Linked DNA regions of Homo sapiens: all the other regions are linked to region 1. The links come from fine-mapping of genetic effects on gene expression. A gene starts in region 1. Each other region holds a variant in brackets. All regions are shown on one strand. Distances are from middle to middle. Region 1 holds the start of STPG1 (sperm tail PG-rich repeat containing 1). Region 2 overlaps STPG1 (sperm tail PG-rich repeat containing 1). Region 3 overlaps STPG1 (sperm tail PG-rich repeat containing 1). Region 4 overlaps NIPAL3 (NIPA like domain containing 3). Region 5 overlaps GRHL3 (grainyhead like transcription factor 3). Region 6 overlaps NIPAL3 (NIPA like domain containing 3).

Region 1 (4,000 bases):
TGAAGTTACAATATTGCATATAGTTTTCAAAATATAAAGCAAATAAGGGATGGCTGGGTGGGGGCAAATATTTGACTCTCTTGAATATTCACAGAATGCTAGGTTTCATCAGAACACAGTTTAAAAACTCCTGGGGGAAGTTCACTGTTGGACAGTTCTAATTGCTAGAAAGTTCCTTCCTGTATCAAAGCTGATTCTCTCTCTCTTTTTTTCTTTTTCTATCCGTCCTAATTCCCACCCTTGGAACCAACTCAAAGTAAGTCTCATTTCTCTTCCACATTGGTGATTTTCAAAATGCAAGTCATAGTCTGTAGTCTTTTGTGAAGTTTTAGTTTGTCATATGCGTGTGTGCATGCTGGGTCACAATATAAAATGCATTTACCATGAGTCACAGTCAAAAGGTTTGAAAGCCACTGTTCTATATGACTATTCTGCAAGAATTTGAAGGCAGTTGTCGTGCCCCACCACCTAAAGACTAATCTTCTTCTCCACATGGGACCTCCCTGGCTTTTGCCACATATCTCCTTGCTGCATGGGGAGCTCCTTTCCTCACCGGACCCAGGCATCGTCCTGCAGTCCTGTCACAAAATTCACGAGACTCTCTGCTCAAACCTTCTTAGGGATGACTTCCCTGACCACCCTCTCTTAAGAAGCACCAACCCATCTCTCTCTAGCCCCTTACTCTGCTTTATCTTTTTCAAAGCACTTTTCACTACCCAACATTATATTGTATGTTTATTACTTTATTTGTTTATGATCTTCCCCAGTAGAAAGTTCAACTCTGAATCTTCAGTCTATTTCCTCACATACAGTATTTGCTCAATTGGCCAGGCATGGTGGCCCACACCCGTAATCCCAGCACTTTGAGAGGCTGAGGGGGAAGGATGGCTTGAGACAGAAGTTCAAGACTACCCTGGGCAACATAGCAAGGCCCTGTCTCTACAAAAATAATAATAATAGTATTGAGAATTTTTAAAATTAGTATTTTCTTCATAAATATTGGTGGAATGAATGAATGAATGAATACTAGAGGTAGACACCTTTTAGCAATTGTGTGTACAGCTGTGCTCAGAATATATTTCCAGCGGGAGTTAGATTCTACAAGGACAGCTCACATGATCACAACTATAGGCACAGTTTCATTTTATCATCTCTTGTGTTTTTAAAAAACGTTATATATGCTAAGTATTACAGTTTACATTATACATGTTACTGTACAGGGTATATAAACATGTACTAAACTATGTATACTGTTACTTTAGATAGAATTTTTTTGGATGTCCTGAGTAGTTTCGTCTGTAGGCGATTTTTATCTACTCAGTTATAAGCATCTTGGAAGCAGCTTACATTTTTTCAAAGCACTCTCAGGTAAATAACCCATTCGATAGTCTTCATAGGCTGAGAAAGTGTATCAGGGAGCTGGAAGGAAATTTAGCGGCGGGCTAGTGACCACCAGGTTCCAATCTCACCCTTTTATTTTACAGATGGGTAAATCGAGGCCCAGAGCAGGGAAGTCGTTTGCTGGGGGACACCCCCTGAGCTGGGGTGAACCTATGAGTAGAGATCAGGTCTTTGGCGTCCACCCACTGCCAGGCACTGAAGCCTCCCAACTTTTGCGCACTCGCGGAGCCTGAGCCAGAAGGGTCGGACGCCCACGCCCCTGGCAGGAGCTCGGTGGAGCAGGCAAGCCCCAGTTGTCACCACTTTTCGGGTGGAAACACCGAGGACACGCCCCGACGCAGGGGCAACTCCCATGGTGGCTTCTTCCCGCCCTCGGGGCTCCACCTAGCTCAGCCCTGGAATTCCGCAAGCACCCGGAGGCCGGGGGGTCTCCGCGGGCGTCCCATGCGGAGGACATGGTGCGCCGTGTCCTCTTCCCCACGACCTCAGGGACCGGTCCCCCCGCCGGAACTGCTTCCTACCTGGTCCGGTCCCGGCAGCTGAATCTGGCCAGCCCAACCTCCCGGTCGCTATGGCACCCACAGGCCTAACATTCGCGAGTCCACCTTCCGCCGTCCGCGAGGTAACTCCAGCCAATGGCATCCTCTGTTTCTTTAACGTGAAAAGTTGTTGACCAATCATTAGAGGCGTTTCAAAGTCCGCAGAGAAGCCGGCCGAATTTTAGGGCTTAGGTTAATTACATCAGGGCCTGTAGCGGGGTGGGGAACTAATAAGAGGTTTATCTAGGCCATGCTTCAAAAATCTTGTGATAAACCAAAAGCCTCAGAATTTTGCTCACTCAAAAATCCTGCTTCAAGGAATATACCTAAAAGAATTAACATTCATCCAAGCCCTGTTTCTTTTTTTTTTGAGACAGAGTCTCGCTTTGTCGAGCAGGCTGTAGTGCAGTGGCGCAATCTTGGCTCACTGCAACCTCCGCCCTCCAGGTTCAAGCGATGCTCCTGCTTCAGCCTCCTGAGTAGCTGGGATTACCGGCGCTCGCCACCACGCCAGGCTATTCTTTTTGTATTTTTAGTAGAGACAGGGTTTCACCACGTTGGCCAGGCTGGTCTCGAACTCCTGACCTCAGGTGATCCACCCGCCTCGGCCTCCCAAAGTGTTGGGATTACAGGCGTGAGCCACCACGCCCGGCCCCAAGCCCTGTTTCTAACAGAAGAAAAAAAAAAAAATTGACATGGGCGACTATACAAGGGCAGCCACTTAGTATTCCAGGAGCCCCTCTTCACACGCTTCAGGGCAGGGCGGTCTCAGCGACCTTGTCACTCCCCTGCTTAAAGTCCTCCAATGGCTCGCCTTTAAATTTAGGGTGAAATCCAAGCTTTTTTTTTTTTTTTTTTTTTTTTGACAGGGTCTTGCTCTGTCGCCCAGCTGGAGTGCAGTGGCGCGATCTCGACTCGCTGCAACCTCCGCCTCCCGAGTTCAAGCGATCCTCCCGCCTCAGCCTCCTGAGTAGCTGGGACCACGGGCGCTCGCCACCACGCCCGGCTAATTTTTAAATTTTTTTGTAGAGATGGGGTCCCACTATATTGTCCAGGCTGGTCTCAAACTCCTGGGCTTAAGTGATCCTCCTGGCCTCCCAAAGTCCTGAGATTACAGGTGTGAGCCACCGCGCCGGCCCCCAAATATGTTATTTATAAACTGTCCCTGGCCCGTCCCTCAGATCGCAGGCCCAACCACGCCCCCAGAAAAATCTCTCACCAGCCCTGCTGGCCTTCGGGCAGTTTCTACAATGCACCAACTCGTTCCTCTCCCATGTTCCCAAGGAGCTTTCTCTGCCCCACGATCTGAGACTAGAACTGCCTCTTTCTCATTGTTGATGTCTAGGCCCAAATGACATTTCTTCATACGTAAAACGGGCTTCAAGTCTCACTCATGGCTGTGACGATCTGAAAGCAAATGCGTGTATATGACAACGTGTGAGCGATGAGAAGCTTGTCATCTGTAAAACTCCATGCGCATGTTAATTATCATGGCCGTGATAATTATGTACATTATAGAAACATTAACCAAGCGCTGGGCTCGTTTCAGGACCTTCAGTATTGCTGGGAGGCTTGGTATCCGACAGGTGTTCCAGGAGGGCAGGAAAGGAGAGATATGTTTGGTCCCAAGTCTCGCGAGGGCTCTGGGGAGCGCTGGGTCTTCAAGGACGTTTTGGATTTGAATACTTGGTGAGAGCGTCGGGTAGGGGAACAGCAGGAGCAAAGCCCGGAAGGTGGCTATGAGGATAAGAAGGGAGGACACCTGGCAGGCTGCTAAAACCAGGCCCACCTGCCGGGCAGGTGGAGGCGAGCAACCACCTAAGCTCTCTGGGACAGCGGGAGAGGGGGCAGGGGAGTCGCCGCACCATTCTTCCTGTGGCCGCTAGGGGGTCCCCGCTCCAGGTGAGCGCCAAGCTCTAGCCCCAGGTCGCTCCCTTATGCTTCAAGCAAGCTTTGCAGCGCAGCCAATTGCCAGGGGCTGTCCCGCCTACTCCCCGTCCTCGCAGCCACTTGCCTGCGCGAAATGCCTGCCAACTTCTGACTGGCAGGCAGTCTGGCAA
Region 2 (4,173 bases), 43 kb before region 1:
GGAGGCTCAGAGAGGTTAGAACTCTGCCCAAGGTCACAGAGCATAAAAACAGCAGAGCTGAAGTACAAATCCAGCAGGTATCACCAACTCGAAAGTCAGGGCTTAAACTTCCATCGGTATAAAGCTATGAGAGCTTGACTGCTTCTGAATGTCCTGCCACTCCAGCGAAGATTTTATGTTACAAAAATAGAACAATGTCAGCACCAGGGGAATCCAGCATCACAGGGAATGAGGAAAGACTTAGTCCTGAGCCAATTCCCTGTGGCTCCTCAAGTTGGCTGTGTGGACTTGGGCAAATGTCCCGCCAAATCCGAAGCCTTGCTTCCTCCTCTATGGGGTAAGAGTAACAATTCTTACAACAGGATTATAATAATAATTGAATACAATTTTAAGTTCCTGGCACACAGTGGTTGCTCAATAAGTATCAGGCATTCAACAGGCATTTACTGAGCATCATTATGTGTGACTAAGGGCCCCTGAAGAGAGTGGCCCGGCACTGTGCTCTGCCAAGCAGTGACACCCCATCCTTTTCTCTATGTTGGGCTTCTTCCCCACAACCACCTTTCAAAAGAAAGACCAGAATGATTGGGACTCACGGGAAAAGAGTCTTTTTTGGAACTTTTGTGCAATCACTGGGGTTGTAATAACCAGGTCCCGGGCCTGTTGACGTCAGTTTTAATCCACGGTTGGTTTTTGATTTAAAACAAGACATTAATGTATTTGGCGACTGCTTCACAAGGGATTCGTTGATATCATAATGCCCTAAGGAGAAAGAAATTTTAGGACAGAATAAGGAACTCTTCTCAAGTAAATAAAAAGCAGTACCTTACCCCTAAGAACACACCTGATGGCTGCAAGGCACCATCACTCTAGGATGGCCAAGTGGAAGGGCTGACTGAGATAGCCAAAAACAATCCTCACCATGCAGAGAACAGATGGCACGGGAAGCACACACTTAGCTGATTTAGTTCTCGCACTAGCCTGGCAAGATGAGTATTACTGCTTTCATTCTACACATGGGAAACTGAGACTCAGAGATTGTTAAATAATTTGCCAAAGGACATTCATCTAACCAGGGACTTAGACAAATCTCTCCACCTTGCTGGAGCCCAGTTTTCCTTCTCTATAAACTAAGAATAATAATTCTTCTGACAACAGAGTTGTTATGACAGTTGAATAATATTTTAAGTTCCTAGCACATAGTGGATGCTTTGTAAATATCATGCAATCAACAACTATCTTTTTTTTTTTTTTTTGAGATAGGGTCTTGCTCTCTTGTCCAGGCTGGAATGCAGTGGCACAATCACAATCACAGCTCACTGTAGCCTTGACCTGCTGGGCTCAGTGATCCTCCCATCTCAGTCTCCCGAGTAGCTGAGACTACAGGTATGTACCACCACACCCTGCAAATTAAAAAAAAAATTTTTTTTTTGAGACAGAGTCTCGCTCTGTCGCCCAGGCTGGAGTGCAGTGGCGTGATCTCAGCTCACTGCAAGCTCTGCCTCCCAGGTTCACGCCATTCTCCTGCCTCAGCCTCCCAAGTAGCTGGGACTACAGATGCCCACCACCACGCCTGGCTAATTTTTTGTATTTTTAGTAGAGATGGGGTTTCACCATGTTAGCCAGGATGGTCTCGATCTCCTGACCTCGTGATCCGCCTGCCTCGGCCTCCCAAAGTGCTGGGATTATAGGCGTGAGCCACTGTGCCCAGCTTTTTTTTTTTTGTAGAAATGAGGCCTCATTATTTTACCCAGGCTGGTGTTGAACTTGTGAGCTCAAGCAATCCCCCCACCTCAGCCTCCCAAAGTGCTAGGACTACAGGTGTGAGCCATCATGCCCAGCTAACATGTATGTGTTGAGCACCACTATGTAGAGACTGGTCTGCTTGTCTCCAAAGCCCACACTTCCCCACCACACCACAATGCCCTGTCTCAAGAAACTGTGACAGAATAAAATGAATTTGTGTACAAAGCTTTAAGGAAGAAGAGAATGACCAAAACTGGGGTGAAGAGGAAGCGATCTCACCCCTAAGTTGTCAGTAGCCCTGTGAATGGATGTTCTCCACCACTCTATTCATATTAGCAATCAATTCAAAATAATCACAATTTTCAATAAGACAATACTGGCTCCTTAATTTATGGTACTATCATATAAGAATATACTATATATTTATTTAAAATGATGTTCCGAAAGGATTTTTACTAACATGAAAAGACGTTCCCAGTATCAGCCGGGTACGGTGGCTCACACCTATAATCCCAGCACTTTGGGAAGGCAAGGTGGGCAGAACACTTGAGGTCAGGAGTTTGAGACCAGCCTGACCAATATGGTGAGACACCATCTCTACTAAAAATATTTAAAAAATTAGCCAGGTGTGGTGGTGTGCACCTGTATTCTCAGCTGTTCTGGAGGCTGAGGCAGGAGAATCACTTGAACCCAGGAGGCGAAGGTTGCAGTGAGC[C/T]GAGATTGCACCGTTGCTCTCCAGCCTGGGCAACAGAGCGAGACTCCCTCTCAAAAAAAAAAAAAAAAATGTTCCCAGTATATGCTTAAATTTTTAAAGAAGCAGATGTCAGCAGCATTTACAATACTGGATAACTATCTCTCATATTCTCTGTTTTGTATATATATTTCTACTAAAAAGGTTATAGCAACACTTGAATTACAAAATACAGAAAACAATGAAAAGCAAAAGCAAGGAATAGAAGGCATTTATGCTGCCACTACCAGAGAGAGCCAGCCGCCAGGAAGCTGGGGTGGAGGGTGAGCTGAAGGTACCAGATATTGAACTAGATGAGCCTGGATTAAAATCCAGCTGTGGGGCTGGGCGTGGTTGCTCACACCTGTAATCCCAGCACTTTGGGAGGCCGAGGCAGACGGATCACTTGAGGTCAGGAGTTTGAGACCAGCCTGGCCCACATGGTGAAATCCTGTTTTTACTAAAAATACAAAAGTTAGCCGGGCGTGGCGGCGCATGCCTGTAATCCCAGCTACTTGGGAGGCTGAGGCAGGAGAATCACTTGAACCCGGGGGGCGGAGGTTGCGGTGAGCCGAGATCGTGCCACTGCACTCCAGCCTGGGTAACAGAGCAAGACTCCATCTCCAAAAAAACAAAACAAAACAAAACAAAAACAAAAAAATCCAGCTGTTGGACACTGGGCCTGTCACCTGCTTTTCTATCTCCTCTGCCTGTGAAGTGGGGATAAAAGAAGAAGAAGAGCTCACACTTTCTGAGCCCATGATTATGTGGTGAGTACCTGCTCCATGGGGCTTTGGAGCATTCAGTGAGATAATGAATGTAAGGCCCCTGGCACCCACGGGGAGCTTAACAGATGCTAGTACCCACACTTCCCCTCCTGTTCTGTGTTATAAGGGGCTGGGGGCTTCTCAGGATCCCCCCACCCCGGGAGGGAGCAGGAGCAGGGGCAGACTGTGGAGGTGCCCACATCCCAGGGCTCACTGGCAGGGACTCTGGCCAACCCCAGGGATGCTGGCTTTGTTCTTCTGTATAAATAGACAAGGTGGGGTTTTGCCCATGGATGATGCAAGGCAGGAGAGCATGAACTGGGGCTGAGCCTCCTAATTAGCGCTGGTTTTGTTATTCAGCTTCAGATTGATCTTTTCAACTTTAATCTGGATTTGCTGAAATCTCACATGCACTACAATTTTATCCACACCCCTCTGCAAGAGGCATGATTGCAGAAGCAAACCTTCCCTGCTCCTCCTCCTGCTTCTGGGGCCCAAGGTTCCTGGGGCAGCTCTGGTGCCCAGGGCTTCTGGGGTTGGGGTGTGGTCTGTGGGACCTATTTGGGATAATCTAATATAATAAGTGCTCCAGCACTGGAGGTCAGAGAGCACAGGAGAGGTGCAACACCCTTCCCCAAGGCCGGCAGGGGAAACACTTGCAGGAAAGCTCTTGTGTATTCCTGAATCTTGGAGGTTCCAGAAGGGACAATGGAATGATGGAGGACGTGGGCTCGTTAGTGAGACCCCTCTGGGCTTGTGTCTGCCATTTACTGGCTGTGTGACACTGGGCAAGTCATTTCAACTCTCTGAGCCTCCACTTCCTCATCTGAAAAGTAGGGCTAAGTGGATGAACCTATGACGGCAGACCTGCAAGACTGCATGGAAACCACTCACCGTGGAGTGGGTGCTCCGGAAACAGAGCTGCCTCCT
Region 3 (4,173 bases), 36 kb before region 1:
TCTCTTGCCTCAGCCTCCCGAGTAGCTGGGATTACAGGTGTGTGCCACCATGCCTGGCTTATTTTTGTATTTTTAGTAGAGGCGAGGTTTCACTATATTGGCCAGGCTGGTCTCAAACTCCTGACCTCAGGTGATCTGTCCACCTTGGCCTCCCAAAGTGCTGGGATTACAGGCGTGAGCCACTGTGCCTGGCCTGCACCTGGTTTTTGATGCAGTGGTTTCCCTTGGGAAGTAGAATTATAAGGGACTTCCACTTTCTAATTAATGGGTTTCTACAGGGCTTGAATATATTTTATGATGAGCGTGTATTATTTTCAGGGTCATATTAAGACAATAATGAACAAAAAACATGCGCCTAAATGTATCTATTGGCAGAAGGACACAATTCTATCTTGGGAAGAGGTCCTTTCTAGATTAACAGCTGCATACTACTGGAAAGTTATTCCTTTGATGTCATAAACATTGATTGGATGCTTACTGCATCCCAGGACCTGTGCTGGGCATTGGAGACAGGAAGCCGGGTGAAGGAGTAGACAGTGATTCGGGGAGAATGGTGCATGAAACACTGACGGCAGCATCCTTCAGCTACAACCGGGAGGCTGCAGAGAGGGGCATCCGCACAGACAGTCGGTGCCTGTGTTTTTCTCCCAAGTAGCCTGGTTCCCACTTGGGACTGACAAAGGGGCAATGGCTAAGCCCCTTTCTGATCACTTTCTTGTATCACACCTTGCCATCTCTCCTGTTAGCATAATAATCTCCTCGCTGGTTTTCCAGAACCCACTCTCCAACCCACACTGCAGTCCATTCACCACACAGCAGCTGGAAGGAACTTTTTAAAAAATATGTCAGATTGGCTGGAAGCTGTGGCTCATGCCTGTAATCCCAGCACTTTGGGAGGCCGAGGTGGATGGATTACGAGGTCAGGAGTTTGAGACAAGCCTGGCCAACATGGTGAAACCCCATCTCTACTAAAAAAAAAAAAATACAAAAATTAGTTGGGCATGGTGGCATGTGCCTGTAATCCCAGCTGAGGCAGGAGAATTACTTGAATTGGGGAGGCGGAGGTTGCAGTGAGCCAAGATCGTGCCACTGCACTCCAGCCTGGGCGACAGAGCAAGACTCCATCTAAAAAAAAAGCATCAGATCACACCACCCCATACCTCCAGCCCCACTCATGGGCTTCCTAGGACCCAGAGAACAAAATGTGAACTTCCTCCTGGGATCTTCAGGGCCCTGTGTGAATTGGCCGGTGTCTGTCTGGTGCCCCCTTCTCCCTTCTCCTCTTGCTCATCCTACACTAGCCACTCAACCTTCCTGAAGGTCCTCGTGGGCTGGGCTCCTTGCTATACCAGGACCTTGGCACATGCTCTTTCTCCAACCCTGGCTCTTCCTCAATCCTTGGGTCTCAGTCTCGGAGCCTTCTCTGACCACCAAGTCAGAGAAGGCTGACTTGGTACTGCCAACCTCCATATCTCCCACATATTCTCCCTCAAGCTCCAGCTGTCCCTCAAAGTTGACCACAGTTTGTAATTATTTTGTTTGTTTACCTGTTCTTTTCTGAATTCCCCACTGGAATCTAAGCTGTATCACCAGCCTGGCACAGAGGAGCAACAGGATCCACAGAGGGAAGCCTGTCAGGGCTGGAATGAGGTGACTTTGATCATTCCCCAGCTTTCCACCCCAGCCATCCACTGGTGCCCACTGAAGTGCAAATGATGCCTTCAAGCTGGGTAACTGTGCAAGTCCCTTCACCTCTCTGAGCCTTAGCTTTCTCTTCTTTATACTGGGAACAAGATAATCCACTTTATGGATTCACTTGTGAGTATTAAATATGATTAATACATAACTCTTAGACCAGCACTTAGTACATGAGAAGTGCTTC[ATCC/A]TCCTCCTCCTCCTCCTCATCATTTTCAGGCTCTGATTATGCCGAGGGAAGACTGCCTGGAGTTGGACTGCCCAGTATAGTAGCCACAGGTTGCATGTGGCTATTGGCCCTGGAAACGTGGCTGGCCCAAATTAAAATGTGCTGGAAGAATAAAACACATACTGGATTTTAAAGACTCACTACAAGGAAAATAGTCTTCCTCAAATATAAAATTCATAACTTTTATATTGATTAGTGTTGAAATGATAATATTTTGGATCTGTTGGGTAAACTATATTACTCAAATTAACTTCATCTGTCCCTTTTTCTTTTTAGATGTGGCTACTAGAAAATCTTAAATGAGGCCGGGCACGGTGGCTCCCGCCTGTAATCCCAGCACTTTGGGAGGCCGAGGCAGGTGGATCACGAGATCAGGAGATTGAGACCATCCTGGCTAACCCAGTGAAACCCCATCTCTACTAAAAATACAAAAAATTAGCCGGGTGTGGTGGCGGGTGCCTGTAGTCCCAGCAACTTGGGAGGCTGAGGCAGGAGAATGGTGTGAACCCAGGAGGTGGAGCCTGCAGATTGCACCACTGCTCTCCAGCCTGGGCAACAGAGCAAGACTCCGTCTCAAAAAAAAGCTTGAATCCATCATAGAAGGTGGGCAGGATTTTTGTAGTCAGAAAAATAATTATTAATTATCAATATTATGAAGGAAAAAAGGAAATGGTATAATAAATGTATAAAACCAAAATAGTTTGGAAAATGGCATAACATTAATGTCTTAAGTACAATTCATATCTTGCGCACTTCAGAGTGCTTTCACGTTCGTTGCCTTATGGTAACCCTGTAGGGCAAGTAGAATTGATTCCATTGTACAGTGGGGGCTGTGACTTACTTACTTGCTTGTATTTAAGGGTAAGTAAATACCCTTCATGTACTAACAAAGACAGCCCTACCAATCTCCATGTATTGTGTGGTCCTTGTGTGACTGGTGCTGTCCTGGGCATGAAGCATACATTATCTCATTTAATATTTGCATTAACACGATGAGGTGAACATACATCACCATTTTACAGATCAGTAAACTAAGCCCTGGAAAGGTTAAGGGACTTGCCGAAGGCCGCACAGTTAGAAAGTGGCAACAGATGAGAGCTAAACCAAACCTTCCTGAGTCCATCTCTTAACCATCCATGCCATTCTGCGTCAGTGAATACAAAGCGATCATAATTGGCACAGCAGGGCACGACTGTTAAAACACCTATTTTCTGATATGAAAGTTTATTTTCCCTAGAAGAACCTAAAAAGTAAATCATTAGTGGCTGCAGACAAAGTGGTAAATAATACACCCATTGTTACAGATGAGAAAACTACGTCCCAGAAAGGTTACAGGACAAGAGTAATTAGAATATGTGTTTCTCAGGGCAGTGGCCTCCCCACAGCTTGATACTGGCCTCCATGTTGCCCATCCTGATCTCTGGGGTCTGCAAATTCCCTGTAAGAGTCTTGTACAGCCTTAGGCACCCATTGGGTAGTCAACAAATGCTAACTGGCTTGACAACTGCATTAAAATACGATGTCCCCAAGATCCCCTCTTCCTTTTATTTTAGTAAACCATTAATTCGATCTGTATTTAGCAAGCATAGGCAGAGTTCTTACATTGTAATAGTTTGGTGCAGGAGTTTCAAACTTGAGAGCTTTCATAAAGCTTGGCAACTGGAACATGCTGGAACACGAATTACTAAAGTCTCTCTTGGAAATAAAATCCGATGGGATAGTGTATGCATTCGCTGCAGGGTATTTAGAAATGATGGTGTCCAATCGGGCGCACTGTAAGGAGACAACCAAAGGAATCAGCATTGTCACATAATATTGTGGATCTGAAGGACAGATGTCAAAAAGATGGTGACCAGCACAAGGTCTAAATGCATTTTATAAAAGGCGAAACTCTGGCAGTAACAATGATAAACTGACCTCAGGCTTTGAGGATCTTCCCTTGGAAAACGCAAGTTCAGACCTGTACTCGCTTCTGTAAACTAACTCAAATTATTCATCTTCTGTTTGGGACTTGGCAAAAATGATTTTGCCATAAATGCATTTCCACCCAATCCTGTTCCAGGCCACTTACCCTTGACTCATCAGCTGTTGGGTAATTTATGTGATAGGAAGCTTTAGATGCTCTTCTCAGCCTAGGCTTTTCTTCTGAGTAAAATCTCACATCTTGTTTCTAAGGTTAAATGATCTGAACTGCCTAAGCAACGAGTTTGCTTCAAACAAAGCTCCAGGGGGCTTGTTGTCCATCTGTG
Region 4 (4,000 bases), 41 kb after region 1:
CTGTGCCACGCCATCGTGGTAGTACCTGCTTCGTAGAGTTATTGTGCTGATTTAGTGAGTTTAACGTAGATAAAATGCTTAGAACACTGCCTGGCGTACAAGGAGACGTCATTTAGTGTAAGCTATGATTATGGGCCCATAAAAAGAATTCTTAACCCTACTCCACAGAGGGTTAACTAAGGTTTAGAGAAGTTAAGTGACTTACCCAAGGCCACACGACTAGTTTAGAGGCAGACCTAAGTTCCAGCCCAGGTCTCCCTGACTCCAAAGGCCTTCCTCATTCTACTCTGTGAAGCTTCACACTGGAAGCTTGGCTGGGAGCACAGGGAGTATATACTCATATTCTTTATTTATGTATTTATTTATTTTTTTGAGATGGAGCCTCGCTCTGTCTCCCAGGATGGAGTGCAGTGGCGTGATCTCAGCAATTCTCCTGCCTCAGCCTCCTGAGTAGCTGGGATTATAGGCAGATGCCACCACGCCCAGCTAATTTTTTTTTTTTTTTTTTTTGTATTTTTAGTAGAGACCGGGTTTCACCATGTTGGCCAGGCTGGTCTCGAACTCCTGACTTCAGGTGATCCACCCGCCTTGGCCTCCCAAAGTGCTAGGGTTACAGGTGTGAGCCACCGTGCCTGGCCTCACATTCTTGACCAAATAGGTTGGTGAACAAGTGTCTCCCTCTTGGACCAACCCATTGTTTTAATGGGGATGCCCATGGAGCAGTGGAGTGGGAAGAAACCATCTCAGCCTGATGCATCTTGGCCCTCCAAGAAAGAGTGGATATGAGAGCAGCACGTCACCCTCAAAGCTTCAGCCTCAGGACAACAGGGAATTCCTTCTCAGTACTAGCCAGGGATTAGAGAGATTCACTCTGTGTTTCCCTTTTCCCCTGAACGTCTAACAGTAGTTTGGGAAATGCTGAATCATAGCTCAGTCATTCCCTTTCAACCCTGTGACTCTGGTGATGGCCCAGCCCACCAGGGTCTCCCGGTCTCGCCTACTTCTGTGGTCCCCACTGACCCCCCTGCTTGCTGCCTTCCACAGCTGGTGGAGATCATTCTGTTCTGCTTGCTGCTCTACTTCTACAAGGAGAAGAACGCCAACAACATTGTCGTGATTCTTCTCTTGGTGGCGTTACTTGGTAAGTTGGCATCTGGATGATTGAGTTTTGCCACCACCAAGAAGCACCAAATGGAAATGTGGGTTTTGTTTGCAGAGCTGTAGCCGCTGGGCACAGAAGTTGCTTGAGACTGGCTGAGGTTGTTCTGTCTCCATCAGTGGCTCTGGGGAGCTGGGTCCCTGCTGACCGGAGGCAAACTCCTGTGCTCCAGGAGCCTCCAATCTAAAGGGAGAAAATAGCACTAAACAACTAGCCAAATTCATAGGTCATGTAAGTTTGGGCAATAACAATTCCAATGAGGAAGAATAAAGTAGAGTGAGGATGAGGTGAGTTAGTTTGTTTCAGAGACGGTAGTAGTAGAGCATGCCCCAGCGATTGAGCCCTGAAAAGATCCATGCAAAACCTATCAGAGCTTAGGGATTCATTCTGATTCAAAGGTAAAACTAGATTTTGTCATCTATTTTTTCTTTTCCTTTTAGAGGGATGGGTGCTGTGGAAGAGATAGCTCCTGAATCAGCTTGAGGCTAGAACTGCATATTAATTTTTCCTTTTTTTTTTTTTTTGAGACAGTCTTGCTCTGTCACCCAGGCTGGAGTGCAGTGGTACAATCTTAGCTCTCTGCAGCCTTGACCTCCTGGCCTCAAGTGATCCCCCTGCCTCGGCCTCCCAAAGTGCCAGGATTACAGGCATGAGGCCCTGTACCTGGCTAGAACTGCATATAATTTTATAGCTAAATAGAGCTGTGGGGAATCCATCCTTCCTGAGGAGAAGCAGACAGAGGCGGAGGAGCAGGCTGGTGTCAGGGCTGGTGAAGCCTGCTACCGCGCTGCTCTTGAGTGGCCTCAGGCTAATGACCCTCCCTCCTTAAGCCACGCTGTCCACTTCTCTAAAGGGGGGGCCTATGAGAACATCCAAGTCACGGAAGGGAGTGGGGGTTAAATGAGATGTGCACAGGTGGCTAATATGTGCATTTTTCTTCCAACCTTCCTACTGTGTGCCCTACCACCGCCACAAGCCATCAACCAAATAGATACCTGTCACCGAAGACAGGGTTTCCTTAATTTTTTAACAGCTCTGTTGAGATATAATTTACATACCATAAAGTTCACCTGTTTAAAGTATACAATTCAGTGGTTTTTAGTATTTCATAGAGTTGTGAAACCATCATCCTAATCTAATTTTAGAACATTTTGTCACCCCCAAAAGAAACCCTGTGCCCATTAGCAGTCACTCCCTGTTCCCCTTTTCCCAGCCTCAGGCAACCACTAAGCTA[T/C]CTTCTGTCCCTGTAGATTTGCCTTTTTGAACACCTTCATAAATAAAGTCGTATGCTTTGTGGCCTGATATGACTGGCTTCTTTCACTGAGCATGATGATTCTGAGGTTCACCCACATCATAGCATGAATCAGTCCTTCATTCCTCGGTGACTTTGTTTTCAAAGTGGATGGGAAGGATCACGGCCCTGAAACATCCTCTCCTCTTACGTAGGAAGGCCAGAAGGTTCTGAGGCCATTGGCCAATCCCCTTCTGACTAAGAAGGACTACCTGATGACAAGTGCCTAAGTGGTTGCTGACGTTTGGAAACAGTAGCCTAATGGGTGAGGAGCCCAAGAGACACTGCGTGTTGGGGGTGTTGGCAGGAGAAAGCGAAATAAACCAAAGCTGAAGAATAGGAAAGCAAAGCACAGCAGCAGGGACCGGGGGCTTCACCTGGACCACGCTTGGGGGCTGTCTCTAACTCCTGTTTGGCAGGGCAGTCTGAAAGTCTGCAGTTAGAAGACATTTCTGAACAGTAGGGTGGAGCAAGGGTCTCCACAGGGAGGTGAGCAGGATGCTTCGCTGGGTACACAGAGAGAATATTAGAACTTCAATCATTTTTTCTCTGCCTTTTAAATTATATTCCTGTACAAATTTTATAACATGCCTACCATTTAAGTTCAGGGTCACATGACTTTAATTTGAAAACAGATACACACATATTGGAAATGTTTGCACATATGCACAGGGGTGTGCATTCCAAAACACTGGAGAAATGTTTTTAAAAATACAAGTGACCAGCTGGGCGCGGAGGCTCACGCCTGTAATCCCAGCTATTAGGGAGGCAGAGATGGGAGGGTAGCTTGAGCCCAAGAATTCAAGACCTGCCTGGGCAATATAGCGAGACCCTGTTGTCCACAAAAAGGAAAAAAAAAAATACAACAACAACAAAAAATACAAGTGACTGAGCACTAAAAAACCCAACAATTCCTAAGCTGTTTACCCAACACATGTTTTTCCTGTGGTTGCCATGAGACTGGTAAGTTCGTTGATCCACTCGGATCCTTTTGGCCACAGTGCTGGGCACTCCGGGCCTCAGAGAACTGAACTTACTGCCCATGCTTGGCAGTTTAGAAGTGATGTCTAGGATTACCTTCAGGGGGTTGGCTTTCCTCCCTCCTTTAGGATGTAGTCAGCACAGAGCATGGGAGTCCATGGGAGAGGTGCACACGAGACCCAGTGCAAACGGCGTCTGTCACTGTGCAAACTGCCGGCTTGACTCTGTTCCTGTTCCCTCCCCTCTGTCTCCCCAAGTCCTTTGGGGTTATAGACTGGCTTTCCGGACCTAACTCTCTGCATTTCCCTGAGGCTCCCCATTCGCCCTTGTCTCCCATCTGCAGGCTCCATGACAGTGGTGACAGTCAAGGCCGTGGCTGGGATGCTTGTCTTGTCCATTCAAGGGAACCTGCAGCTTGACTACCCCATCTTCTACGTGATGTTCGTGTGCATGGTGGCAACCGCCGTCTATCAGGCTGCGTGAGTTACAAATCCTTTTCCTGCTGGGCCCTGCCATTCGGGCTGCTTCTCTTTTGGGGGCCTGATGACGTATGCTGTGAAGCCACAAGG
Region 5 (4,173 bases), 70 kb before region 1:
ACCAACAGCGGTGAAAAGCCTGGGCTGTGAGTCTGGGTTCAAACCCCTGCTGCACCACACACTGCCCGTGTCACCTCGGGAAAGTTGCCCCACCTCTCTGAGCATTGGCTTCCCCATCTGTGAAAGAGGAGTGCTGATGTTTGCCTTCTAGGGGCCTAGTGAGGCTTAAGGGTGAGCAGCAGGCACACAGAAAGCTAGAAATACAGGATCACTGTGGGACGGTGGGGCTGGCCACCTGGGCAGGCCACTTACCCAGCGGCCCCCTCTGTCTCCAGGTGTTCATCGGCGTAAACTGTCTGAGCACAGACTTTTCCTCACAAAAGGGGGTGAAGGGTGTCCCCCTGAACCTGCAGATTGACACCTATGACTGTGGCTTGGGCACTGAGCGCCTGGTACACCGTGCTGTCTGCCAGATCAAGATCTTCTGTGACAAGGTGGCTGGACTGGGCAGACCCTATACTGGGTCCCGGGGAGGTAGAAGGGCCAAACCCTGACCCGTGCGTCCTCCTAGCTTCTCTGGGTTGTCTGTCTCTCTCTGTTTTTCTATCCCTTCTCCTCCTTCCCCTCTCCTCCTCCACCCCCACTCCTCCATCTCTCTGTCTCTCTGAGTTTCTTCTTTTCTGTCTTCTGTCTGTCCGCCTCTCTCATGGCCTGTAGTGACCTCAGGCAAGCAGGGCCAGGCCCCACTGGCCAGGCTGGGCCAGGTAAGTGCTGGTACCTTCCCATTTCCTGGTCTTGTTCTGGAAAAAAGAAGGACCAGAAGCTTGGCCCATATTTAAGATGCAAAGCAGCAGCTGTGAAAGTAGCTAGCCCCTCCCAGGCCCTTGGTGACCCTCTCTCCTTCTCCCCTGCAGGGAGCTGAGAGGAAGATGCGCGATGACGAGCGGAAGCAGTTCCGGAGGAAGGTCAAGTGCCCTGACTCCAGCAACAGTGGTCAGTGGGGATCCAGGGCCTGGGTGGGCTCGGCTGGCGTGAAGGGGAGAAGGAGACCAGAGGTGGGAGGGACTTGAGTGGAGGGACCTCGGGGCACATTGGCTTCCTTCTCCCATCAGGCGTCAAGGGCTGCCTGCTGTCGGGCTTCAGGGGCAATGAGACGACCTACCTTCGGCCAGAGACTGACCTGGAGACGCCACCCGTGCTGTTCATCCCCAATGTGCACTTCTCCAGCCTGCAGCGCTCTGGAGGGGTGAGGCCAGGGCTGGGGTCTCGGGAAGGAGCCGAGAGAGGGTCCTGGCTCCTAGGTGGGGCCTGCCTTAGCACAGACCAGTGGGGAGCAGCCTGCCCCTCAGCCAGTTTCAAGACCTTTATTGAATCATAGGGGTTTAAACATGTATATATGGTCCTATAGCTTCAGTGACCTATTGTATTGAAGAGAAGAATGTTATGAAGAAACAGATTTCGTAACCATTAAAACGTTCATGCTTAGGGCACACAAAGAGGAGGCTTCTGATATCTGACCCCAAATTTGATTGCAGCCCCATGGAATTCTCACGGCAGCACTTGTGGTGCTCACTGTGTGCCAGGTGCGGCTCTGAGCGCTTCCCAGGCATCACCGTCCTTACCCTTCTCTACAGCCCTGGGAAGTCAATAATAATGTCTCCCTGGATCTGTGGGGTAGAAATGGAGGCACAGAGAAGTTAAGAAACCTCCTGAGATTGCACAGCTAGTAAGTGGCAGAGCCAGGATCTGGACTGAGGCACCTGTTCAGAATCCACACCTTTCCCCACTAGCTGCTCCGCCTCTCAAGCAGCCGGGACTGAGCGCCTGGCAGCCAGGAGTGGGCTGGGTTCCCTGTTACAGCTGTCCTCCGAGAGACTGCACCTACCCCCTTTTCCAGGCACGGTCCCACAACAATTCAATGGCAGGGTCAAGACCCCAGAGCCTGTCTCCTAGTGCGCTTCCATACTGGAGAGTCTGAGCATTTCCTTCCTTTAAGGGTACAGCTCCGCACTGTTTCTTCAGGAATATTTATACAAATGGACCTTGGTGTACAAGGCATGTTTAGTGTATTGACTTAGGACAATGAGGTGTAGACAGTGGCGCTGAGAAGAGCGGCCAGTGCTGACAGAGCTTGGCACAGGCGCAGAGCACTGTCTGTG[T/C]CCCTCCTCTCTTTGCCATCTTGGGAGCTGCGCTGTGGCCCCGCAGCACAGGCGGCTGTGTGAACCTGTTCTCTCTTGGCTCTCCTCACTCTCTCACCAACTAGAGGCCCTCAGTAAGGAGATGACCACTCAGGGTGAAGGCCCCTGTGGCTAGGTTGACAGTCAACCTGTGGGGGTTGAGGGTGGGCCAGTCTCCACACCTGTGAGCCTGGGAGAGGGGAAGCCCAGGGCAATAGCCAACAGAGAGCCTGAGTTTGAACCCTGACTCTGCCTCCTGCCGGGCGTGTCATCTCTAGAGCTCTCTGCTCTCTCTAGGCCTCAGCTTCTTACCTCACAAGACTGACTGATGCCTGCCCCACACCGCACAGTGCCAGGCACACTGTAGGGTCCAAGAAGAGGGCCTCTGGCCAGGCTTAGTGGCACACACCTGTAATCCCAGCTACTTGGGAAGCTGAGGCCGCAGGATTGCTTCAGCCCAGGAGGTCGAGGCTGCAGTGAGCTGTGATGGTGGGACTGCACTCCAGCCTGGGAGACTCTTTCCCCCCAGAAAAAAAAAAAAAAAAAAAAAAAAAAAAAGCCCTGTTGCCCTTGCTCCCTTGGCCCTCAGCTCCAACTGCCTAGTTACCGGCCGCAGGACCATCTGCAATTCCCAGCCCTTCTGGGCATGCTGGGGCCCAGGTGGGGCTCAGTGTGACTCTGCTCTGACAACATGGCTTTAGCACCTCCTGTGTGTTCATTGAGTCCTTGACCCATCCAGCTCGGGCTGGGTGATTCCTTTCCACTCAACATCTCAGGTCACTTAAGGGCACTTGTCTGAGCAGAATGGGCTAGAAAGGCATTGTAACAGTATTCTCCCCACCTCCCACCAAAAATATTCCTCCCAGAGAGCCTCCAGCAGCCAGGGGCTCCTCTCATTTTCCTGCGTGTGATGGAAAATGTCTTTTTCACTTCATTGCAGGCAGCCCCCTCGGCAGGACCCAGCAGCTCCAACAGGTATGGAGAGAAACAACCACACGCCTCCCTCCACACCTGTGCACCCTCCACACCTGTGCCCCCTCCACACCTGTGCCTCCGCCACACCTGTGCCCCCTCTACACCTGTGCCCCCTCCACACCTGTGCCCCTCCACACCTGTGCCCCCTCTACACCTGTGCCCCTCCACACCTGTGCCCCCTTTACACCTGTGCCCCTCCACACCTGTGCCCCCTCTACACCTGTGCCCCCTCCACACCTGTGCCCCCTCTACACCTGTGCCCCCTCTACACCTGTGCCCCCTCCACACCTGTGCGCCTCCACACCTGTGCCCCCTCCACACCTGTGCCCCCTCCACACCTGTGCCCCTCCACACCTGTGCCTCCGCCACACCTGTACCCCCTCTACACCTGTGCCCTCTGTACCATGCCCACTGTACCATGCCCATTGCCCCCAGCCTGCTTTTCTCCCTGTTCCTTGCAAGCTAGGGTGTGGGGCCAGAGGAGGAAGCCACCAGCTTCTGCCCCCAGCCCCCAAGCTAGATCCATGCTTCTTTCTCACTGAAACTGCCTGGGTTTTTATGGGTTTGTTTTATGTGAAAAGTCGGCGAATCTCTGGCGAGACACCCGCTTGTAAAAAGGGAAAGGAAAAGAGTCTGTGGTGGTGCAGATTCAGAGAGAAGAGGGAAGCTGTGCTGGAGGCTTAGGGGATGAAAACCCTCCATCTCCTTCCCCAACACACCCCCACTGGGGGGCCTAGCTGGGGCCGGCACCCCTTGACACTTTGGCCTAGGAAGGGCCTTTGTGTCCTTCCCTCTGTCAGTCACAGCCTTAGTGCCCTGAGCAGTCCCTTCACCTCTCTGAGCCTCAGCCTACACATTTGTCAGATGAGGAAAACAGCCTCGAGAGGGTGAGGAGGGCGGTGTGGATATGGAATCTTCGTAAGTGGGAAAGCACTTTATGAAGATCATTTGCTGTTATGATCAGTTTCTTCCCTATGAACAAAATGTACTTTTCACTTGGTGCTTTCACCCCAAATTATGTCACTTGTCACCTCACAACAGCCTCAGAGTTAGGCAAGCAGGGTTATTGCCTTGCTTTATG
Region 6 (4,000 bases), 25 kb after region 1:
CTTGGCCTCCCAAACTGCTGGGATTACAGGCGTGAGCCACCGCGCCCAGCCTTTTGTTTGCCTTATATGTGATGACCAGGGTTTTAGTTGTACATAGCAGGAAGAATAGGGAAAAGTACATCTACTCCATCTTCCCAGAAGCAGATGTTCTATAATTGACTTTTTAAATGGAAAGTTATAAAATAATTTTTTGTATGCAAGGAGCATTAAAATATTGAAACTGGCTGGGCGTGGTGGCTCACGCCTGTAATCCCAGCACTTTGGGAGGCCGAAGCGGTCGGATCATGAGGTCAGGAGATTGAGACCATCCTGGATAACACGGTGAAACCCACCTCTCTACTAAAAATACAAAATAATAGCCGGGCGAGGTGGCGGGCGCCTGTAGTCCCAGCTACTTGGGAGGCTGAGGCAGGAGAATGGCGTGAACCCGGGAGGTGGAGTTTGCAGTGAGCCGAGATTGCGCCACTGCACTCCAGCCTGGGCGACAGAGTGAGACTCCATCTCAAAAAAATATTGAAACTAAGATTCATTATATTTGTAAATACAATTTGTTAGATGTATAATAATTAGTTCTGTGGTAAGGTTTTATTTCAAAAAACTAAATTTGAATAACATATTTCTTTTTACAAAATAAAAGCAGATTGCCTTTTTTGTCCACCAAAGCCATGGCTCTAAGGGGGAAGAAAAAACCTCGCTCATGTTTATGAGAAGTTGGGCTAATAATAAACATGTCCCAAAATGCTTTCCACAAAGTGCTGATTCTGTTGAGCTTTTTAGTTGCAAGTAACAGAAGCAAGTTCTTAAGCAAAATTGGGCTGTTCCTGGCTTCAGGAAGGTCTGGAACCAGGAGGTCTGGAACCAGGATGGCCCCAGGGTCCTGAGGAGCGACAACTAATGATTTGCTCAGGCCTCACCTTGGGCTGAAGGGAGTCAACCTTTCTTCAGCCTTTGTGTTTCTCAGTCCAAGATCTGGATCCCAGAGAAAGAGATTCTGGGCTGCCTGGCTTGGGTCACACTTGGGCCGTGATGTCTAGGGAGGATGGAGCACTGGGAATGACAGTTCCAATAAGACCGTGTCCAATGGGGAGGGGGCGGAGGAGAGTCCTCCCCAGCAAAATCAGGGTGTCGTTTATCAGAAGAAAAGGAAAGGATTAAAATGTTAGTCAAGTGAGAGTCATAGATGTTTACTCCAGATGCTGATGGCTGGATTCCAGGTTAAGAGTTCTAGAGCCAAATGAGTTTGAGAACCTGAGTTAGACAAGGAGAAACTCCCCTGAGAGCCTCTAACATGCTCTGGGGGCCTCCCAGCAGTGGGTAGAGGATGCATTGCCTTTAACTACATGGTGCTTTTCTTGCCTTGGCACCCCATTAGCATCTCTGGGAACTCAGCTGGGGAAACCCTGGCTGGGCAGGTCTCCAGCGAGCCTTTTAGCTCTGAGATCCTGTCATCCCACAGGAAGGACGTGTTCTGCCTGCAGGTGGCTTTATTCTGTCTTGCTGCTCATCGGGTGAGTCAGAATCAGTTCCCAGCTCTGACCTTTTCCAGGTGGGGGACACATCTCAGGTGTGGTGAGGTTGTGGCAGAGCTGGGACTAGACTGGGGTCCCCTGGCTCCACATCTTTCCCTTCTGTGGCAGCGCTGAGCCTTGTTGGGAGAGAAGTTAAGGACAGCTATCCATAGTGATTTCAGTTGGTGGGCCTCCCTCTCGGTCCTCCTGCCCTCTCCCGTCCCTGGCCAACTGCCCCTTCTCAGGGAAGACCTGCCCTCAGCTCTCTAAGCCCCGCGATCTAGGAGAGGGCAGGGGGGAGGGTTGACTTCACTGTTACTGCTGACTGTGTCCTGAGGGGGAAGCCTCGGCCAGCTCTGGCCACTGCGGGGCAGCTTGCTAATTATCTGTCTTTCCAGATGGACTGAACATATGACAGTGAGGACTGTTTGTCTTGTTAACTGCCGATTCCCTAGGGCCTGTCCCCCGCCTTAAAGAATGGGCAGGATTTCACCAGGGAGGGGAACCAGGCGGGGTTGGGAAGAGAACATGCTGGGAAGGAGGTTGCAGCATTGGCCAGCATAGAGCATTCCTTGGTGTTCAGTGGTGGAATATGGATGGAGGGTGTGTTGGGGACTTGCTATAGTGTGGTTTAAATGCTAGTACACTTTGACCCAGCAATTCCACTTACAAGAATTTGTCCCAAGGGACTAATCCATACAAACGCACAAAAATGTGTGCACTAGGCTATTCAATCACAGCATTGTTTTTTTAAAAGGAAACATAATAGACACGGGGGACTCCAAAACGGG[G/T]AGGGGTGGGGGTGAGAGTTGAAAAATTACCGATTGGGTACTGTGTTCACTTATTTGGGTGATGGGTTCACTAGAAACCCAAACCTCAGCATTACACAATTTACCCATGTAACACACCTGCCCATTTACCCCGACTCTAAAATAAAGTTAAATGAAAAATTAATAATAAAGGAAACAGCCTAAATATCCAGTAATAGCAAAGCAATGATATAAAATATGGCACATCCAAAAATAATGAGTTATTTGACATTTAATAAAAATGACAAATTAGGTATGCCTGACAGGGAAATGTGCTCACAATATGTTAAGTAAAAAAACAGATTATAAAACAGATGGTAATCTTATTTTTATAAAGTAAATTAACATTTCCATTGATATGTAAATTTATGGACAGAAAAATGTTTGCAGGAATAAGAACCAAAATGTTTATAGTCATTATCTCTGGGTTATAGAATTAAAAGTGACTTTTCTATTATGGTGGTGTTGTTATTGTTATTTTTTTCATTTTTTTCTCATGCTACCTTGTCTAAGATATTATTATTTTTATCTATATATATTTCCTATTTAGTCTACAATGAATATATGTTTGGTAATCATTTTAGAAAGTACAAAATTCCGTGCCAGGTAGTCTGAACCTAACTCATAGGTGATGTAAATTAACTTTTTATAAATTGAGTAATTGACAATGCCCTAAGCAAGTGAGCCAGTTAAAAGAGTTTCATTGAAACCCTCTGGGAAATTGAAGACACTATTGACAAGATAGCAAAAAGTATTCTCTGGCCTATATTTCTCTTGTAAATTCTGATTTTGGAATGTTGCTTTTCTGCACAAGATGGTGGCAAGTTAATACTTTAAAGGGAATAGCACAGCAGGTTTAGACCTTGTCAGGTCAGTGTGATCGGGCCACCAAAGTATCCAATTCAGGGCAGCATTTTGTAAACCAGCAAAGCAGCCAGATTAACCTTCAGTAGTAACATTCCAGTTGTGGGTCTGGAGTGTGGCTTTGTCACTGATATTGTTTTTCTGGTTTTGTTTTGGGGCAGCAAATGGTTGAGTGTCAGAAGTGTCCTGGGGCCCCCTGGCTTGTGCCCAAATCATGTCCACTCCTGTGAACTTTCCTTACAGGAAAACCTGATTGGCGCCCTCTTGGCGATCTTCGGGCACCTCGTGGTCAGCATTGCACTTAACCTCCAGGTAAGTTTCAGTTACCAGCACTGTCTGGGGACAGAGACACAGCAGACAAGTCAGGGTGTCTTATCCAGGTCCAGCTGCCTCCTCTCTGCAGGGCCTTGCCTACTGCATCCCTGGGCTGCACCTGGGACAATACCTTGTGGGCCGTTCCAGGATTTCTCTTGATTCAGTGGCCCCACTCCATCCCGCCCTCGCCCTCCTAGCCAGGTCCTCACTGTCTCTCCTTGGGCTTTGCAGTGACCTCCTGCTAGCTTCTCTGGCTCTGGTCTCATCCCTCTTTGCCTTGCTGCAAAGCTGCTGGAATTACCATAGTTTTGTCAAATTCAACTCTAATTACAGCACTGTTCATTACTTAAAAGCCTCAGGGATGCCCTCTACAGCTGCTGTGGATCCCCCCACTGACCTCCAAATCCCCTCGGCCTGTCTGAGTTCACAAGCAGCTGTGGTGTGTAGCAAGTTGATAGCTAATGAGCTTCTCATGGGGGCACCAAGGAGCTGGTGTTACTGGCA

The links. PIP is the estimated chance that this variant, and not a neighbour inherited with it, causes the effect.
Region 2: its variant is the best candidate, but not a certain one, in a credible set for the expression of STPG1 in esophagus mucosa (GTEx, PIP 0.58).
Region 3: its variant is the best candidate, but not a certain one, in a credible set for the expression of STPG1 in thyroid (GTEx, PIP 0.79).
Region 4: its variant is the best candidate, but not a certain one, in a credible set for the expression of STPG1 in whole blood (INTERVAL, PIP 0.78).
Region 5: its variant is the best candidate, but not a certain one, in a credible set for the expression of STPG1 in gastroesophageal junction (GTEx, PIP 0.76).
Region 6: its variant is the best candidate, but not a certain one, in a credible set for the expression of STPG1 in whole blood (INTERVAL, PIP 0.51).

What each region holds. Positions count from the first base shown.
Region 1 is chr1:24,411,752-24,415,751 of GRCh38, forward strand. It overlaps STPG1 (sperm tail PG-rich repeat containing 1), which reads right to left and starts at 2,031. Exons shown (of 9, transcript NM_001199013.2): 1 at 1,923-2,031. It also overlaps a transcript of NIPAL3 not described here. RefSeq lists an enhancer at 1,527-1,646.
Region 2 is chr1:24,369,078-24,373,250 of GRCh38, forward strand. It overlaps STPG1 (sperm tail PG-rich repeat containing 1), which reads right to left. Exons shown (of 9, transcript NM_001199013.2): 7 at 597-762. Among named protein-coding and RNA genes, the nearest start is that of STPG1, 43 kb to the right of the region's middle. The variant C/T (reference allele first, on the strand shown) is at 2,462.
Region 3 is chr1:24,376,127-24,380,299 of GRCh38, forward strand. STPG1 (sperm tail PG-rich repeat containing 1) reads right to left here. Exons shown (of 9, transcript NM_001199013.2): 5 at 3,527-3,697. Among named protein-coding and RNA genes, the nearest start is that of STPG1, 36 kb to the right of the region's middle. The variant ATCC/A (reference allele first, on the strand shown) is at 1,883.
Region 4 is chr1:24,452,364-24,456,363 of GRCh38, forward strand. NIPAL3 (NIPA like domain containing 3) reads left to right here. Exons shown (of 12, transcript NM_020448.5): 7 at 1,045-1,141; 8 at 3,775-3,910. Among named protein-coding and RNA genes, the nearest start is that of NIPAL3, 39 kb to the left of the region's middle. RefSeq lists an enhancer at 3,450-3,962. The variant T/C (reference allele first, on the strand shown) is at 2,394.
Region 5 is chr1:24,341,840-24,346,012 of GRCh38, forward strand. GRHL3 (grainyhead like transcription factor 3) reads left to right here. Exons shown (of 16, transcript NM_198173.3): 9 at 276-434; 10 at 855-933; 11 at 1,053-1,186; 12 at 3,058-3,092. Among named protein-coding and RNA genes, the nearest start is that of GRHL3-AS1, 22 kb to the left of the region's middle. RefSeq lists an enhancer at 720-1,534. The variant T/C (reference allele first, on the strand shown) is at 2,100.
Region 6 is chr1:24,436,748-24,440,747 of GRCh38, forward strand. It overlaps NIPAL3 (NIPA like domain containing 3), which reads left to right. Exons shown (of 12, transcript NM_020448.5): 3 at 3,425-3,493. Among named protein-coding and RNA genes, the nearest start is that of NIPAL3, 23 kb to the left of the region's middle. The variant G/T (reference allele first, on the strand shown) is at 2,300.